4 separate regions of the Homo sapiens genome follow, and all the other regions are reported to be linked to region 3. The links are microRNA targets in miRTarBase. Many come from high-throughput screens and were not tested one by one. Region 3 holds a microRNA gene; each other region holds the end of a gene's coding sequence.
The links. Region 3 holds the annotated microRNA hsa-miR-342-3p (UCUCACACAGAAAUCGCACCCGU, at 1,508-1,530, shown strand). A microRNA usually pairs through its seed, bases 2 to 8, with sites in the 3' UTR of a target mRNA and lowers its output. Matches are read on the target gene's strand: a 7mer-m8 pairs with bases 2 to 8, a 7mer-A1 pairs with bases 2 to 7 and ends in A, and an 8mer does both.

Region 1: the mRNA of C2orf72 is a reported target of hsa-miR-342-3p. Seed matches in the 3' UTR shown: 7mer-m8 at 2,035-2,041.
Region 2: miRTarBase lists SEPHS1 as a target of hsa-miR-342-3p. The part of its 3' UTR that is shown has no 7-base or 8-base seed match.
Region 4: miRTarBase lists KLF17 as a target of hsa-miR-342-3p. The part of its 3' UTR that is shown has no 7-base or 8-base seed match.

The regions. Positions count from the first base shown.
Region 1 is chr2:231,046,646-231,050,645 of GRCh38, forward strand. C2orf72 (chromosome 2 open reading frame 72) reads left to right here. Exons shown (of 3, transcript NM_001144994.2): 3 at 237-3,074. The coding sequence ends at 376. LOC112268432 (a long non-coding RNA gene) reads right to left here. Exons shown (of 2, transcript XR_002959456.2): 2 at 2,231-4,000. Among named protein-coding and RNA genes, the nearest start is that of PSMD1, 8.2 kb to the right of the region's middle.
Region 2 is chr10:13,315,927-13,319,926 of GRCh38, reverse strand. It overlaps SEPHS1 (selenophosphate synthetase 1), which reads left to right. Exons shown (of 9, transcript NM_012247.5): 9 at 571-2,499. The coding sequence ends at 785. Among named protein-coding and RNA genes, the nearest start is that of PHYH, 18 kb to the right of the region's middle.
Region 3 is chr14:100,108,208-100,112,357 of GRCh38, forward strand. MIR342 (microRNA 342) reads left to right here and starts at 1,448; the gene lies at 1,448-1,546. All of the region lies in intron 3 of EVL (Enah/Vasp-like), which reads left to right. MIR151B (microRNA 151b) reads right to left here and starts at 1,307; the gene lies at 1,212-1,307.
Region 4 is chr1:44,130,434-44,134,433 of GRCh38, forward strand. KLF17 (KLF transcription factor 17) reads left to right here. Exons shown (of 4, transcript NM_173484.4): 3 at 79-323; 4 at 2,805-4,000. The coding sequence ends at 323. Among named protein-coding and RNA genes, the nearest start is that of KLF18, 9.2 kb to the right of the region's middle.

The DNA.
Region 1 (4,000 bases), not on the chromosome of region 3:
GTAGCAAGATAGCTCCAGCAGTTCCACTAATTATTCCTAATTATTTTCTTAGGATAAAATCCTAGAAGTGAAATTTGTGGGTCAAAGGGTGTGTACATCGTTAAGGTTTTTGATATGTATTTTGTTTTGTTTTTTAAGTAGGTATTTGCTGGGGACAACTTTCTCCTTTTCCTTCCTAGATAACTCACTCACAACCTTTCTCTTCTGATTCAGTGATTTCTTCTCCTGTGTTCCAGAAGACTTCCAGGAACCTGAGGAGGAGCTGCCACTAACAGCCATATTTCCCAATGGAGACTGTGATGACCTTGGAAGGGGGTCAAAAGCCTGTGATGGAGTCGTACACACTCCTGCTGAGCCCACCGGAGACTCAAGATGAAGGCTGGACCCTTGCGCTGTCCCTGGCTCTAACCTACAGACTGGGGCCTGGCTCCGTCTTACTGGCCCCCAGGTCTCCATGGAGACTGCAGAAACCCCCGCCTGCTGGAGGCCTGCCACACTCACAGTTACCAGCTAGACAGTGGGGCTTACTAAGACAAGCAGGACCTAAAACAGTGTCTCCCCTGGGAACCTACTCCCCACCCAGCATTTGCTAAGTCTGATCACAGGGAGGTTATTTTGTCTCTCTGTCTCGGTTTCTCTGAGCCACTGAGACAGATGGCTGTCCGCTTTGAGGCTCTGCAGAGCTGTGGCACCCCATGGTGTGTCTGCAGTGTTCTGGGCACATGCATGGGCACCCATCGTTGAGAGTGCAGCTGGGAAGAACTCTGAACCAGAAGTCATCAGAGCTGAGGCATGGCCTTGAACATGTCACTCAGTCTCTGGGGCTTCTGTTTCACAAATGCATGAGGGGGCCACCAGCCCAGTGGCTTTAAACCAGGGGCAGGTTGTCCCTCCAGGCAGCATTGGAAATGTGTGTGTGTTGAGGGGGTCACAGTGACTGTGGGGGCACCCCTGGCATCTAGTGGGCATCCCACAATGTGCAGAACAGTCTCTGACAGCAAAGAATTGGTCCATTCAATGCCAATTGTAGTACCTTTGAGACATTCTGGCTGAGCCAATGCCTTCTCCCTGTCAGAGTCCCCCAGAGCAGAGAGGGTCAGGCTTCCCTGGACCTTGGCTCCCAGAGCAAGCCAAAATAAAGACTACACTGTTGCCTTGGGGGCTTGTCGGGCCAGGGCCAAGACGGTCTGCGTGCTGCAGGGCCAGGACAGAAATAGCCACACATGCCGGTGAGAACAAAGAGCCTCTTTCTTTCTCATGTTGACATCGACTTTCTGTGCCAAGTCCTTTGGGTATAAGGATGCTAGGGAATTCCTATAGGCACCAAACAGAAGGAAAGCTAGGGGCTTGGACTACTGGGTATAGGACTTGCTCTAGCTCTCAGGTCCTAGCCCAAGCTCAATGCAAACACAGCCCCTCCGGGCTCTCTGTTTCTGTGAGGTTCTGGAATCCCTTCCTCTGTGTCCGTGAGTCTGACAGAATCGATGATGTTCCCTTAGAGCTGGGAAATCCATGTGTTTATTCACGGAGGGAACTCACCATTACCTCCCTTGTCTTCTTTGCCTGCCTTGGAGAAATCCAGAGTCTTCGGAATGGCAAAGGCAGCTCCTGGATTTCCCTGGAGGGGAGGCACTAGCTGAGGGAAGTAGCTCCCTTCATTCATGATGCACAGTTTACGCAGCAGACACACAACTGCGCCTACTATTTGCTCGGTGCCCTGCAAGGTGCTGCCTAACTTTGATTTGTTATTTCAGCTCTCTCCAGGATAGTGCCAAATGGTGCAATGGGAAACCTGTTTTGCTGGGGGGCTCTAGATCACTGGCTCCAGAACTCCCGGCTGCCAGGGTAGCCCCTACCCCCAGCCCCTTGCTCCTGGACAGCAGTGGGTCTCACCTTTAGCCTCTGCCCCCAGTTCTGGTCTGACCCAACAGAGGGGCTCTATGATATTAAGAAGGGGCCCTTCCTGCTCTGTGCCTCAACCTATTCTCCATAATAGGGAGTCTAATCCTATTCCTTCCCTGCCTGATGAGGATGGTGTGAGGATGAGGAGGACGGCATCTCATTTGGGGCTTTTTGGCAGTGGGCCTCATTTTAATCCTGCAGGGCTGCCTGCCAGTGGATCTATCCAGCTGCTTCCTTGTAGCCAAGAATGAGTTCAATGAATTGTGATTCACTGATTTTATTGATTTTGTTTTAAAACAGGGAGACTGGTATTTTTGAAGCTGCTATCATTTTCTATTTCTTTATTAATTTCTTTGTAATCATCTTATTAAAGTTTTCTTATTTAGTGGGAGAGGGAGCTTTGTTTAAGTTTGGAATTTGCCTAAGGCAGAAGTTATAAGGCTTCATAACCTTTTGTATGTATTGCCAATATTTGAAACTTGGGAGATTACGTATAAAAAATACCTAGTTTTCTGGGTGGAGGATGGGGCATGCTGTCATCTCAAGTCTGCTGCGGCTCACCCCCACCACCTTTACCCCCTCCCCCGCCCTTCCCATCCCCCACTGCACTTCACTCATGTAAGACGTCTGCCCGGTGCTGGTCCAGGCGGGCATGTGAGTTTGTAGCCTCTGCTCCAAAGGATGGTTTACACATTATTTTTTCATTACCTTCAGTATTCCTGTGAATGGTTCAAGAGAGAAAGTCTTCATTTACTAAGATTTGGGTTCTGCCTCCCAAGTGACAATACGGGGCTGAGATCCCTCTCAGCTTCTTTGAGATGTGGCCACCATAAGCATCATCGTTGTAGGGACAGTCTCATTGCTGTCTTCTAGCAGACAGAAGAGTTAGGTGCCAGAAAGGACAATCTTGATGGTGGGTCCCCTCCCTGAAGGACTTTAAGAAGGCATAAAGGGGTTGGGGTGGAGGGTGGCGTGTGAAGGAGGAGGCCCTTGATTAGGTCAGTGGTCCCTGGGAGCCATCGGCGAGAGGCCTCCAGCCGGGTGACAGTCTGGGCTCTCGGGTACTAATCTTTCTAATATGGCAGTGGTTGTGGCACTTCTGACTTGAATTGATAATTCTCATATCTAATAAAACCAAGAAGTACCTCGTTGATATCTTATAGAAAACAAAATGGATCTTCTTCATTCTCCTAAGGGGCTCCTTGCAGAGAGACCCTGGAGAGCAGGGAAGCTTGGCAAATGGTGGAAATCTGTGGCCTGAAAGCCTCCCAGCCTCTGCCCTGGGTGACATCTCCCCTGCCGTACCAGCTGGGATTAAAAAACCTGTAGCGAGAAAGCATAAGTATATATTTAAAAAATGATTTTTAAATTTTTGTAGAGACAGGGTCTCACTATGTTGCTCGGGCTGGTTTCAAACTCCTGGGCTCAAGTGATCCTCCCACCTCGGCCTCCCAAAGTGTTGAGGTGACAGGCATGAGCCAATGGCCAGATTTTTGAAAAGACAGCATTCAGCTTAGGATACAATGGTGTGTGTGTGAGCGTGTGAGCACGCACATGCATGTTTAACCAGAGCTAAAATAACCTTAACTGAGTCTCAGAGAATTCTTTCTACTATTTGGGTCACACTTTTTCTCCTCTCCTAGTGTTTGTCTCCAAACCTTAGTGCACAAGAGTCCCTGGGTTGTCAAACCCAAAACTTAAGGCAACCCTGCAAAGGGGCCAGGAGCTGAGTCCCCAAACCTTTGAACTGAACGAGCCCCCCTTACCCTAGCAGAGAACTGTGGATTCAGCCTTGCTGGAGAAGACGAAGGACTGCCTGGTTAACTTGAAAGCAGCCTGTACTTTAAAGTGTAGCAAAGCAAAGCTGCAGGCTTTATTCCCTGGGGTCAGGAGGCCTGGACTTTGTCCTGTTTGTATGGCAAACACAGCCAGCCCAGTGAGTGAGTGCAGGAAGCTGGCTGTTTGTACCCAAGGGCTGCATAACCGCTTCTGACCTGGTTTTGTGTGTTAGTGGATCGAGGATTGGGACAGACGTGGAATTTGGCCTGGGCAGCCTGCCACTTGTGTAACCTTGGAGCTCAGGAAAAAATGAGGTGCA
Region 2 (4,000 bases), not on the chromosome of region 3:
TTATTGAAGCCCCAAACACCTTACCCCTACACAGTGTTATGTGGTTCACGAATAGGTCATTTTCACAGTTGAAAGTTGGAGTGTATATGTGTGTGTGTTAGGAGTTTACTAGCAATTGCTTAATTACAGCATAGAACAGGCCTCTTAGGCTGGGAGTGGTGGTTCATTCCTGTAATCTCAGCACTTTGGGAGGCCAAGGCAGGTGGATTGCTTGAGTCCAGGAGTTTTAGACCAGCCTGGACAACACAGTGAAACCTTGTCTCTACAGAAAATTAGCCAGGTGTGGTGGTGCACACTTGTAATCACAGCTACTGGGAAAGCTGAAGTGGGAGGGTCACCTGAGCCAGGACATTGAGGCTGCAGTGAGCTGTGATTGTACCACTGCACTCCAGCTTGGGCCACAGAGTGAGACCCTGTCTCAAAAAAAAGCTGCTTAGTTGAATGGGAAGAGCTACTTGCATATAGGTGGCAGCAAGTTGTTGATGGAAGTTGGATCTCTGCAGAAGCAGCAGAGGCAGAGAAGCTGCTGTCATGTCAACACTAACAGTCATTCTTGTTTTCTTTTGCCAGGCGGCCTTCTGATCTGTTTACCACGTGAGCAAGCAGCTCGGTTCTGTGCAGAGATAAAGTCCCCCAAATATGGTGAAGGCCACCAAGCATGGATTATTGGGATTGTAGAGAAGGGCAACCGCACAGCCAGAATCATAGACAAACCCCGGATCATCGAGGTCGCACCACAAGTGGCCACTCAAAATGTGAATCCCACACCCGGGGCCACCTCTTAATCTAGACAGAAATAGCTGTTTGGTTTTGTTTTTAAATAGATCTATTTCCCTTATCACTTCAATTAAAGACTATAAACAACAAAAATCTCATTGTGTCTACACATCGGGGTGACCTTAGGTCGGTTTGTAAGTGGATACAATTAATAAAATAAAATCCATTGCCTTTTTTTCCTGTTACATTAACTGAAGATGCACCTAATCTTGAGGCAGCTTCTGAGTTGAGAATTATATTGTTATCCAATACTGTTGATTCATTTTGAATCTTTAGACACTTATCTCTTGCCGCATAGGCTTTTTAAAGGTGCTTTCACATAGCACAGGCATTACCCGTAGTCGTGTCAAATAGCAGTTGGTGTCTTCATTTTATGTATATTTATCATATAAGTCTGATTTTTTTTTTTAAGCGTCTTGAATGGTTTTCTGGAGAGACAGCATTGGTAAGTGGCACATGACGGTATCCCAGTCATAAGAGGGTTGCATGATTCCTTTGAGTGTTTGATTTGAAAAGCCTAGTCTTGTCTCTCAAGAGCATCTCGGACCCAGAACATTCTCCAGTAGTGCATTCAGTTCAACACAGCAAGTGCTTCATTGCATGGAAAACACTTTGAAGACAAAAAAGAAATCTTATTTCTTTTTTTGTAGCCTTCCTGATATTTACAGTAATACCATTAACTGTTTTATCGATAGCAAAAAAGGATACTTTTTGCAATGTTATTAGATGTTCTATAGTGCTACAAGGAATTGCCTTCCGAATGGAGGTTCATGTATAATACTCATTTACAATTCAATATATAATTACACAAATAATTTTTAAATATAATCAATAGTAAAGACTGTTCTGTGGATGGTAGTGTTTAATACATTTTCTATTTTGTACAGTGATTTCAGGCCTTTTGTTTTCTTAAAATCAGCAGCTGTTTGGCCTAATTCTTAGCATTATTTTGTCCTTTGCGCCAGTACTTTTTTGTGCACGCTTTTTGTGATCTGTGTTAAAAACCTGCATTGCCAACATTGCAGCTCGAACTTAAACTTGTTATTCAAATAAATATTTAATTTTTTAAATTGCTCTTGTATAATCAGATGCCCCTTTTAGTATTATTTTAGAAGCGTTGGGAGGGTTTTGCCTAAAGTACAATTTATCGGGAAAAACTAGATTTTAGTTTTATAAAACTTTTAAGTCTTTCATGGGACCTATATTTTCTTGAATTAAATTTTGTAGTTCTAGAATAAATAGGCAATCTAAAAAGGTGTTCTCTGTGTTATGTAAAGTGGAGGCTTCCTTATATTTTAACCTACTAAGCAATGAGGAGGGATTCCTGTCATTAAGCACAAGGGCGCTGGATCCTCAAGTGCCCATCTTCGTGAGAGAAAAAGCAGCACATCCTGCCCATTTCTGGTGCTTTCTGCTCACAGGCACCAAAGCTGCACATGTAAACTGACTTCTTGCCAAAGGAAATGACCCCTGGGAAGTTCAAGCTCCTGGAAGAGGCTTTAACTCGGACGCGCCCTCCTCCAGGAACCAGTGGGCAGGGCAGCCTTCATGCATGTGTAACTGGACCTCCAGCCATAAGCATGGTGTGCAGTATGGAAGAGCCTGCTACGGAACTGAAAGTGATTGGACATTTTATAGGAATTGATAGAGATGTTGGTCCTCAAAAGCTACAAACCAGTGGTCTGCAAAATAAAGTGTGTTGGAAACCTCTAGTGAGATAAACCTACTGTTGAGCTTTTTTTTTTTTTTTTTTTTAAATAACGATGACTGAACTTCAGTGTAGCCTGTGCCGTGAGAGCTGGTGTTTTCCTCAGTGGCAGGCCTATTGAGAGGAGGGAGCTAAGTGGAGTATGTACTTAAGGAAATAATATTTGTGAAGATTGATATTTATAAAGAGAAAATGTTGGGTACTTAGAGGTCCGTGTAAGTCTTATGATCCCAAGAGGAAGAATTTGTATTTAAAGCAGTGTTGGCTGGGCATGGTGGCTCACACCTGTAATATCAGCACTGTGGGAGGCCGAGGTGGGCAGATGACCAGAGGTCCAGAGTTCAAGACCAGACTTGCCAACATGGTGAAATCCTGTCTTTACTAAAAATACAAAAATTAGCTGGGTTTGGTGGCGCACACCTGTATTCCCAGCTACTGGGTAGGCTGAGGCACAAGAATCGCTTGAAGCCGGGAGATAGAAGTTGCAGTGAGCAACCTGCCATCACACCACTGCACTCCAGCTTGGGCGACAGAGACTCAGTCTCAAGAAACAGACTCAAGTCTCAACAAGCAAACAAAAACCAGTATTGTATAGTGGCCCAGATTCACCTGTGTTAGAATCACCCGGGGTGTTAGAAGGCAACATTCCTGCCCCTGATTTTCCAGATTCACAGAATCAGAATTTCTGGGGTGTGGGACTTTGGGAATATCTTAAATAAGGACCCTATGGGGCTATGGCCAAAAAAGTTTCAGAACCATGGGTGCAGCACACCAACATGGCACATGTATACATATGTAACAAACCTGCACGTTGTGCACATGTACCCTAAAACTTAAAGTATAATTTAAAAAAAAAACTGATCTCAAAAGGAATGTTGCAGAGGAAGGCAGGGAAAGTAAGAGGACCTGGTTTTGCAACTTTTTTTTTTTTTTTTTTTTTGAGGCGGAGTCTCTCTATCAGCCAGGCTGGAGTGCAGTGGTGCGATCTCAGCTCACTGCAACCTCTGTCTCCCAGGTTCCAGTGATTCTCCCGCCTCAGCCTCCCGAGTAGCTGGGATTACAGGCGCATGCCACCAAGCCTGACTGATTTTTGTATTTTTAGTAGAGACAGGGTTTTGCCATGTTGGTCTCGAACTGAGCTCAAACGATCCGCCTGCCTTGGCCTCCCAAAGTGCTGGGATCACAGGTGTGAGCCACCATGCCCAGCCTTTTGCAACATATTTTGCAGGAATTTTTTCCTCGACCATTCTCTTACCGACCATTCCGACCAAATCTTGACCATTCTGTTTACTTCCCACATCTGAGCTACGGCCCAGCAAGGCAGCAGAAAGACCTGTATTTTGAAAGCTCCACGAAGACTCAAATGATTGTCACTGAATATTGGAGTTCTTGGCAAAATCTATGTAGAACATTTTAAAAGTCAGTGGACAGGCCAGACATGGTGGCTCACGTCTATAATCCTAGCACTTTGGGAAGCTGAGACAGGAGGATCACTTGAGCACAGGAGTTCGAGAC
Region 3 (4,150 bases):
GGAAGAGTCAGGCCCAGCTCCATGTGCTCTTTGGAGGGGAGTGGAAGGTTGTTAAACCTCATAGCTCTTGGAGGTGGGGCTGAATTTTGCTTCTTGTAAACCTCTTTCCATTGGAAATTACCTCTTTCTCCCCTAAAGAGAAGGAAGTACTGGACTGTCTTCATCTCCCTGGCTGCCGAGGCCATTTGACACCTTGTGCCACCTGAGAGAAAGCAGGCCCAGCATGGCCCTGCCTGAGGGGAACAGGACGGCAAGCCCCTGGCCTCCTGCCTGCTCCCAGCTGCCCTCTGGCGGCCACTTTCTGAAAGCCGGATATGTCTCTTTGCTGACCCACCCCTGTTCTCACCCCAGGGCTCCAGATGTTGTATCAGGCAGGGCCTTTGTACGCCTCCATGCCAACAGCTACCCAAGTCGCACCGTCAGTCACACTCTTACTCAGGCTCTCCTGTGCCCCTGGCCCTTCTTCCCCTCTCACTTTTCCCCACACTTCTAAAATCTCACTCGTCCTGTCAGAATGTGGCTCCACAGATGGAGCCTTTCCCAGCCGCCCCGCTCCCTGTGACTTTGCACTCCCTCCTGCACTCCCACGGGGCTTTATTTTTGCCTCTGTCCTAACAGTCAGCTGCCACTTGGCCTGTCCTGCTATTCCCACTGCATGAATCTAGTCAGGTTGGAAATTCAGAAAGTGGCCTCTTTGTCTCTGGACCCCAAAAACCCACACATCGTCTGCCTTATAAGCTCTCAGTATATCCATCCCTGGCTGCAGGAACACACCAGGACCCAGAGGCTGCCGTGCCTGGAGCCCTGTCTCCTGACTCAGCCCAGGCCCCAGCTCAGCATCGAGGTCCTGTGGGACCATGTCCAGCAGTGAAGGCTGTGCATTGGCCTGAGCCCCTGGTCCCTCTGACTCACTGGCTCCCATTTTCACCACCTGCACTGCATATTCTCACCGTCTCTCCCCTGACACTCTCTCCCCTGAAGTGTTGTAATGGGGTTGTAACCCATCCACCTTCTCTTGTCCTTCTTCAGTCTGTCCTCCCTGGGCTGCGTCTAAAGGGGCCCCGCCCCTGCCCTCATGCATGTTCTCTCCATACTCCTGGTCACCTTCTGCTCATCCTTTGCCCTGCTGTTGTGAAGCCTTCCCAGTGCCCCAGAAGACCTCAGGCACCCCTTCCCAGTCCTCGCACACTGTTGGTGTCCCATTTGTTTGGACCCTGGGTTTGTTTGTCTAGACTGTGAGCTCCTCGAGGGCAGGTGTCTGTTTCTGTGTCTCGGGAGCCCTGAAGAGAGACTGACACATCAGAGGTGTCTGGTGACTGAACAAGCTCCCAGCTTGCGCCCATGTCATATTGTGTGCCTCTCATAGCCTGGCACTTCCTGCCATTGCATCCTTCTCTGCAGACTAAGATGGAGTTCCTGAACCAAGACCGCTTGCTGGCCAACCTGTGAAACTGGGCTCAAGGTGAGGGGTGCTATCTGTGATTGAGGGACATGGTTAATGGAATTGTCTCACACAGAAATCGCACCCGTCACCTTGGCCTACTTATCACCACCCCAAACAGAGGAACACGCCTTCTCCAGCCACAGCCTATGGAAGGGCCTTCAGCTGCTGTGGCCCCGAGGTGTGCATACTGTGGAAGGAACTTCGGACGTGAACTCGGATCTGGTTCCAGTACCAGCTGTGCCAGGAGTGTGCCCTTGGGCATGTCACTGACCTAAGACTCAGTTTCGCCATCTGTGAAATGGCTGAATCAGACTCACCTCACAGGGTTGTTGTGAGGGTACCATGAGATGATGTTTGTAAACATTCTTTGTCACCTCTAAATTACTATAACAGTTTGAAGTTACTCTTTTTAAAAAAATTATTTGCAAAGGTAACTAACAATATCAGCCGTGCACAGTGGCTCATGCCTGTAATCCCAGCACTTTAGGAGGTCAGGGGATCACTTCAGTGTGAGAGTTCGAGACCTGCCTGGTCAACATAGCAAGACCCTTGTCTCTACAAAAGCATTAAAAATTAGCTAAGTGTGATGGCGTGTGCCTGTGGTCCCAGCTACTCAGGAGGCTGGGGTAGCAGAATTGCTTGAGCCCTGGAGTCTGAGGCTGCAGTGAGCCATGGTTACACCACTGCACTTCAGCCTGGGCAACAGAGCAAGACGCTGTCTCAGGAAAAAAAAAAAAAGGTAACTAACAATATCAACTCCTGTGTGGTGCCAGCAGCCATCACGTTGGGACACAGAGGGAAGCCAGGCTTCTTGGATCCTGATGGTCAGAGAACACTTTCTGAGGGAAGCGGGGCTTGAACCTGGGCCCTGCAGGGCTGGGGGTGAATGGGGGGATCTGATGAGGAGGAGGACGGCGGCACCAGCAGATCTTGGTGGTTTGGAAGTTCAAATCAAGATCTGAGAAGAGGCTCTGTCTGACCCTGGGGGTCTCCCTCGGCACATTGGTAGTACTGTGCATGCCTCACGGGTGCCCCTAATTTCAGAGCATCCCACCTGCATCCTGCTGCTGCCATTGTCCTCCTCAAAAGAGCTGCTGGCTTATTGCAGTTTACATCCTAGAGAAGAGAGGTCTCCTCCTTCCACCAGTCCCAGGATTATCTCCCTAACGCTAATGGCGAGATTCCTTTGGAGTTTTAGTCTTCTGTAGATACAGCCCAGGCGCCATGTGCCCAGTCAGGGTTTGAGATAGGTGGTGGTTCATTCCCCAGCCTTGCCTCACCAGCACCTTCCTGACGCCTCCTGGTAGGGCTCAGGAAGCAGCCAGCTGAGGTGTGCCTGCCATGGTCAGCACAGTGGTTGACAGAAGTGGCACAGATTGTGGGGGCAGGTGACAGGGTACCATGCCCTAGCTCCAGGCACCCGCTCCACCCTGTCACATGGAGCAGCTGTGAAACCTTGAGCAAGCCATTTCACCATTCTAAGCCTTAGTGTCCTCATTTTTTTTTTTTTTTTTTTTTTTTTGTGATAGAGTCTAGCTCTTGTTGCCCAGGCCGGAGTGCAGTGGTGCAAACTCAGCTCACTGCAACCTCTGCCTCCCAGGTTCAAGCGATTCTCCTGCCTCAGCCTCCCAAGTAGCTGGGACTACAGGCATGCGCCACCACGCCCGGCTAATTTTTGTATTTTTAGTAGAGACAGGGTTTCACCATGTTGGCCAGGCTGGTCTTGAACTCCTGACCTCTGGTGATCCACCCACCTCGGCCTCCCAAAGTGCTGGGATTACAGGTGTGAGCCACCGTGCCCGGCCAGTTTCCTTGTCTTTAAAATGGGTGTGACAACCACCTCACAGAGTTGTCATGAGGCTCAAATGATAAAATAGATGGGACTGTGATTTGTAAGCATATGGCACAGTGAATGCAAGTTGTTCCTGGAGTGCCCAATCCCTAGATACTGGGATCTCACCCCTCAGTCGTAGCCAGAGTCATTTCATTCTGGTGTGCCACCACCCAGAGCTAAGCCGTATACTCCTTACAGAAAGGAACAAACCCCTTCCTGGATGCTCTTGTGCCTGGATCTTGGCTCCCTGAGATTGCAGGGAGATAGCAGGAATTACTTTCTCCATTTTAAGAAGGAAGAAACAAAGGCTCACAGTGCTAAGAAACTTGCCCCAGGCCACTCTGGTGAATGCAGAGCTTAAGGCCCAGAGCCCAGATGTTCTGATTTCCAGTCCAGGTCTCTGCCCAGTGGACCAGACTGCCTCTCAAAAGACCCTGCTCAGCTGGCAGCCCCCCAGCTTTCTAAACTATAACCCGGCTTGGTCAGAGGTTGATTATTATAAACACTTAACCTGCCCCATCTTTCTAGCCACATACCCACATCTTCGAAAGTGAGGGAAGAATTCATTCACAGCTGTTTTCTTTTTTCCTCGCGTAGCGTGTATCATTTCTTTCCTAAGGAAGGAGTTTTACAAGTAGCCTCCTGCCAGCTTCAGCTCATATAGGATAAAAGCCAGCTCAAATATTTTGGTAGATAACTCCGGAGACTCAGAAAGCCAACTGCTGAACTTGAGATACAGTTTCCAGTTTGAGAGTGGACAGGCTGCGAGTGTTTGAGGCCCTGCCCCCTGCCTATCTGCTGCCTGCCCTCTCTCATCCAGGTGTCCATGCAGCAGGGGGTTTCACAGCAGCCACTGTCTGACTGGCTTGCTC
Region 4 (4,000 bases), not on the chromosome of region 3:
GGACTGCTCTGCCTCACAGAGTTAGACCCCTTCCTTCCTACTGTATTCTAAATTCCATCTCTCCCTTGTCATTCCCAGGTGAGAGGCCATATTCTTGCAACTGGGAAAGTTGTTCATGGTCTTTCTTCCGTTCTGATGAGCTTAGACGACATATGCGGGTACACACCAGATATCGACCATATAAATGTGATCAGTGCAGCCGGGAGTTCATGAGGTCTGACCATCTCAAGCAACACCAGAAGACTCATCGGCCGGGACCCTCAGACCCACAGGCCAACAACAACAATGGAGAGCAGGACAGTCCTCCTGCTGCTGGTCCTTAGGTCAGTCTCCTCTCCTCATTCTGGGTTTTCTTTTTCCTTTTTTCCTTTTTATTTTTTTGAGACGGAGTCTCACTCTGTCTCCCAGGCTGGAGTGCAGTGGCGCAATTCGGTTCACTGCACCTTCCACCTCCCAGGTTCAAGTGATTTTCCTGCCTCAGCCTCCCGAGTAGCTAGGACTACAGGCACGTGCCACCAGGCCCGGGTAATTTTTTGTATTTTTAGTAGAGACGGGGTTTCACTGTGTTAGCCAGGATGGTCTCGATCTCCTGACCTCATGATCCGCCCACGCTGGCCTCCCAAAGTGCTGGGATTACAGGCGTGAGCCACCGCAGCCGGCCTCATTCTGGCTTTTCTACACAGATCCTACCTGCCTCTGACCAGTTCTTCTCTTTGGTGGGTGTAGGATTAGATGAAGACAGGAAGATTATGGGTCAGTGTTGAAGCCTACACGGAGCTCTGGAGCCAGAGACTCCTCAAACCCTGTCTCGGATGCCCTTAACCTCTCTGGGGCCACCTGCTTCTGCTGGAGTTTAGTCAGATGCGAATGTGGAGCACAGTAGAGACTGGGAGCTTCATTAAAATGCTCTTTATTTCTTGTCGCTCCCCAGCTTAAAACCCTTTAGTGACTCCTTTGCTTGCTACATAAAATCCAGTTTCCAGAGCCAGACTATTTTCAAATCCTGAATTTGCCACTTAATATCCATGTGACCTTGAGAAAGTTCTTGGATCACTATGCTTTGTTTCTTCCAGAAAATGAAAAAACTAGTTTTGTACTGTATTAGACGTGGCACATATACTGCATCATTCTCCCTGGCACTCACTGGCCATGTACCCAGAGTTTCTGTTTCTTCCCACCACTTTACAGACTTGGATGGAATGCCCTGGCATAGGGCATGGGATCTGGCATCCCAAGTTGCTGCTAGCAAACTTAGAAGTGTGGGGAAATTTATTTATTTGAGACAGAGTCTTGCTCTGCCACCATGGCTGGAGTACAGTGGTGTGATCTCAGCTCACTGCAACCTCTGCCTCCCGGGTTCAAACGATTCTCCTGCTTCAGCCTCCTGAATAGCTGGGATTACAGGCAAGCACCACCACACCCAGCTAATTTTTGTATTTTTTGTAGAGACGGGGTTTCACCATGTTGGCCAGACTAATCTCAAACTCCTGGCTTCAAGTAGTCTGCCCACCTCAGCTTCCCAAAATGCTGGGATTACAAGCATAAGCCATGGTGTCTGGCTGGGAGTTAATATTTATGGGATAAAATTTGAGGCCGGGCGCAGTGGCTCACGCCTGTAATCCCAATACTTTGGGAGGCTGAGGCGGGTGGATCACAAGGTCAGGAGTCTTGAGACTAGCCTGGCTAATATGGTGAAACCCTGTCTCTACAAAAAATACAAAAATTAGCTAGGCATGGTGGCGTGCGCCTGTAGTCCCAGTTATTCGAGAGGCTGAGGCAGGAGAATGGCTTGAACCCGGGAGGTGGAGGTTGCGGTGAGCCAAGATTGTGCCATTGCACTCCAGCCTGGGTGACAGCAAGACTCCATCTCAAAAAAAAAATTTTTTTTTTGACTAGTGGAAAATGGGAGATAGGTGAGACTCAGGCAAATCAATTCCCCCTTTTCCCCTGCCTTTCATAAATTGCTGCATGGCACCAACTCTCCAAAACAGTACCATCAATGGGGAGGCCTCCCAAGTAGCCGGTGGACAGAACTACTGTGACCTCTGCAAGGCTTGTCATGAAGCAGTGCCCACCCCAGCCTATTAAATACATCACCTTACGTTACTTCCCATTCTTTCCCGCCTTTCTTCCATTTTCTCACTTCCAATGCCTTGGGTTTGCACCTCTCCAAATAAAACACCAGTACTTAGTTCTTGTTTTCAGGCTCTGTATTCTAGGTGACTGAGGACTAGGAGGGAGAGGAGGACCTAAGCCTGGGGCAGATAAAGATGAATCTCACTGTAACTTCTTCTCCTCCCACCTTCCTTAGGTCCCTGGACTACAAAGCACCAGATATTAAGTGGCCTATCTTTCCTTGCTCTCCCTTGGGGTTAAGGGGATAATGACTATCTTGGCAAACCAGCCAGGTAGTTTAGAACCTCATATTTAGACTCGGCAGGCTGTTTTACTCCAGGAAATTGATAGAGAGAAAGGAACTTGGCCAAGCTATCAAGTGCAGATCTAGAATCCCAACCAGGATCTGTCTGCCCCAGAGGTGGTCTCTTCCGTAAGAAGATGGTGCCTTCTATGGGTGTTTCCTGAACGAGGCTGGTGCCAAGCACAGAGAGATGAATCAGAGCTGGTTTCTGTGCTCAAGGGACCGTCTTGATCTGGGGGCTCAGAGGTCCACCTCGGTACAGTAGCCATGGGGAAGAGGAGCCCCTAATGGAAGGGTCAGAAAGGCTCTCTGGAGGAGGTAATCCCTGGGCCCAGTAAGAGTGTAACACCTAGTAATCCCTCAAATTTTGAAATAAACTGAACAGGTGAATGAAGAAGGAAGAGGATTCCAGGCTGAGAGCACTGGACGTGGCAACTGTTCAGAGGAGAGGCAGTCTTCAAGTTCTACATTCATTCAGAAAAATGTTTTTTGAGCCTACAATACTGAGCGCAACAAGGCTGTGGAGACCCATGGTGAGGAGCATGGAGTTAACTAAAGGATGTGTCAGGGAAGAAAGACTTCTCAAGGAGGTGCCTCCATCAGACCCAAAGGACTCATGGGGGCTAGCTGCACCTCACATTTCTTGGACATATACCGTTGGACATGTCTATCTTCTGGAAACTATGGCATGGACAGTAAGGATTCAGAAGTGCATGAAGGCACCCTGCCTCTGCAGAGCAGAAAGATCATAGACAACATTTATGAATGTGCCCAGTGCTGCCAAGAAGAGAAGCCGGTCCTCTGCAGGCTCAAGCCTATCTGGGCCTCTGGGGAAGCCCCACAGCCTTGGCTGTGCCTGCCCCTGCCCTCTCACCCCTACCCTGACCTTGTCCTACTTCACTGCCTTTGTCTGTGTTACTAGTGGCCCCAGTATACCTGGGATGGACATCCAGGTGCCCTTCATCCAAGCTCCTATGTGAGGGGAATGGACATTATTAAAAGAACAGGGGCAGAAGTGGCTCATTTATGACCCATTCACTAGCCCCAGGGATTGAAGTCTTGGGTACTCAAAGTGTCTTTCTACCAGGGCACCAGATCCCTTCCATGGAGCAGGTCATCTCGGGTTCACTGGGCCAGGGATGGTCTCTGTTCCCCAGCCCACCTGGCTCACACACAGCCTCATGGGTAGGGTCAGCAAACCAGATGGCTTGTTGTTGGAATGTAGGATGAGAGGCCTGCTTGGTGACCTAGCATTTTCACCAAGAAGTGGACGTGGAGAGGACCAGAGTGATCAAGGGTGTATGATGTGCACTACAATGGTGGGCAAAACAGGCTCCTGCTCTTGTGGAGGTCACAATCTAGCGGAGAAAGGATGTTACTAGAAGTACACAAATTGGGCCCGGCGCGATGGCTCACGCCTGTAATCCCAGCACTTTTGGAGGCCGAGGCAGGCGGATCATTTGAGGTTAGAGATTCGAGACCAGCCGGGCCAACATGGTGAAACCCCATCTCTACAAAAAATACAAAAATTAGCCTGGCATATGGCGGGTACCGTAATCCTAGCTACTCGGGAGACTGACG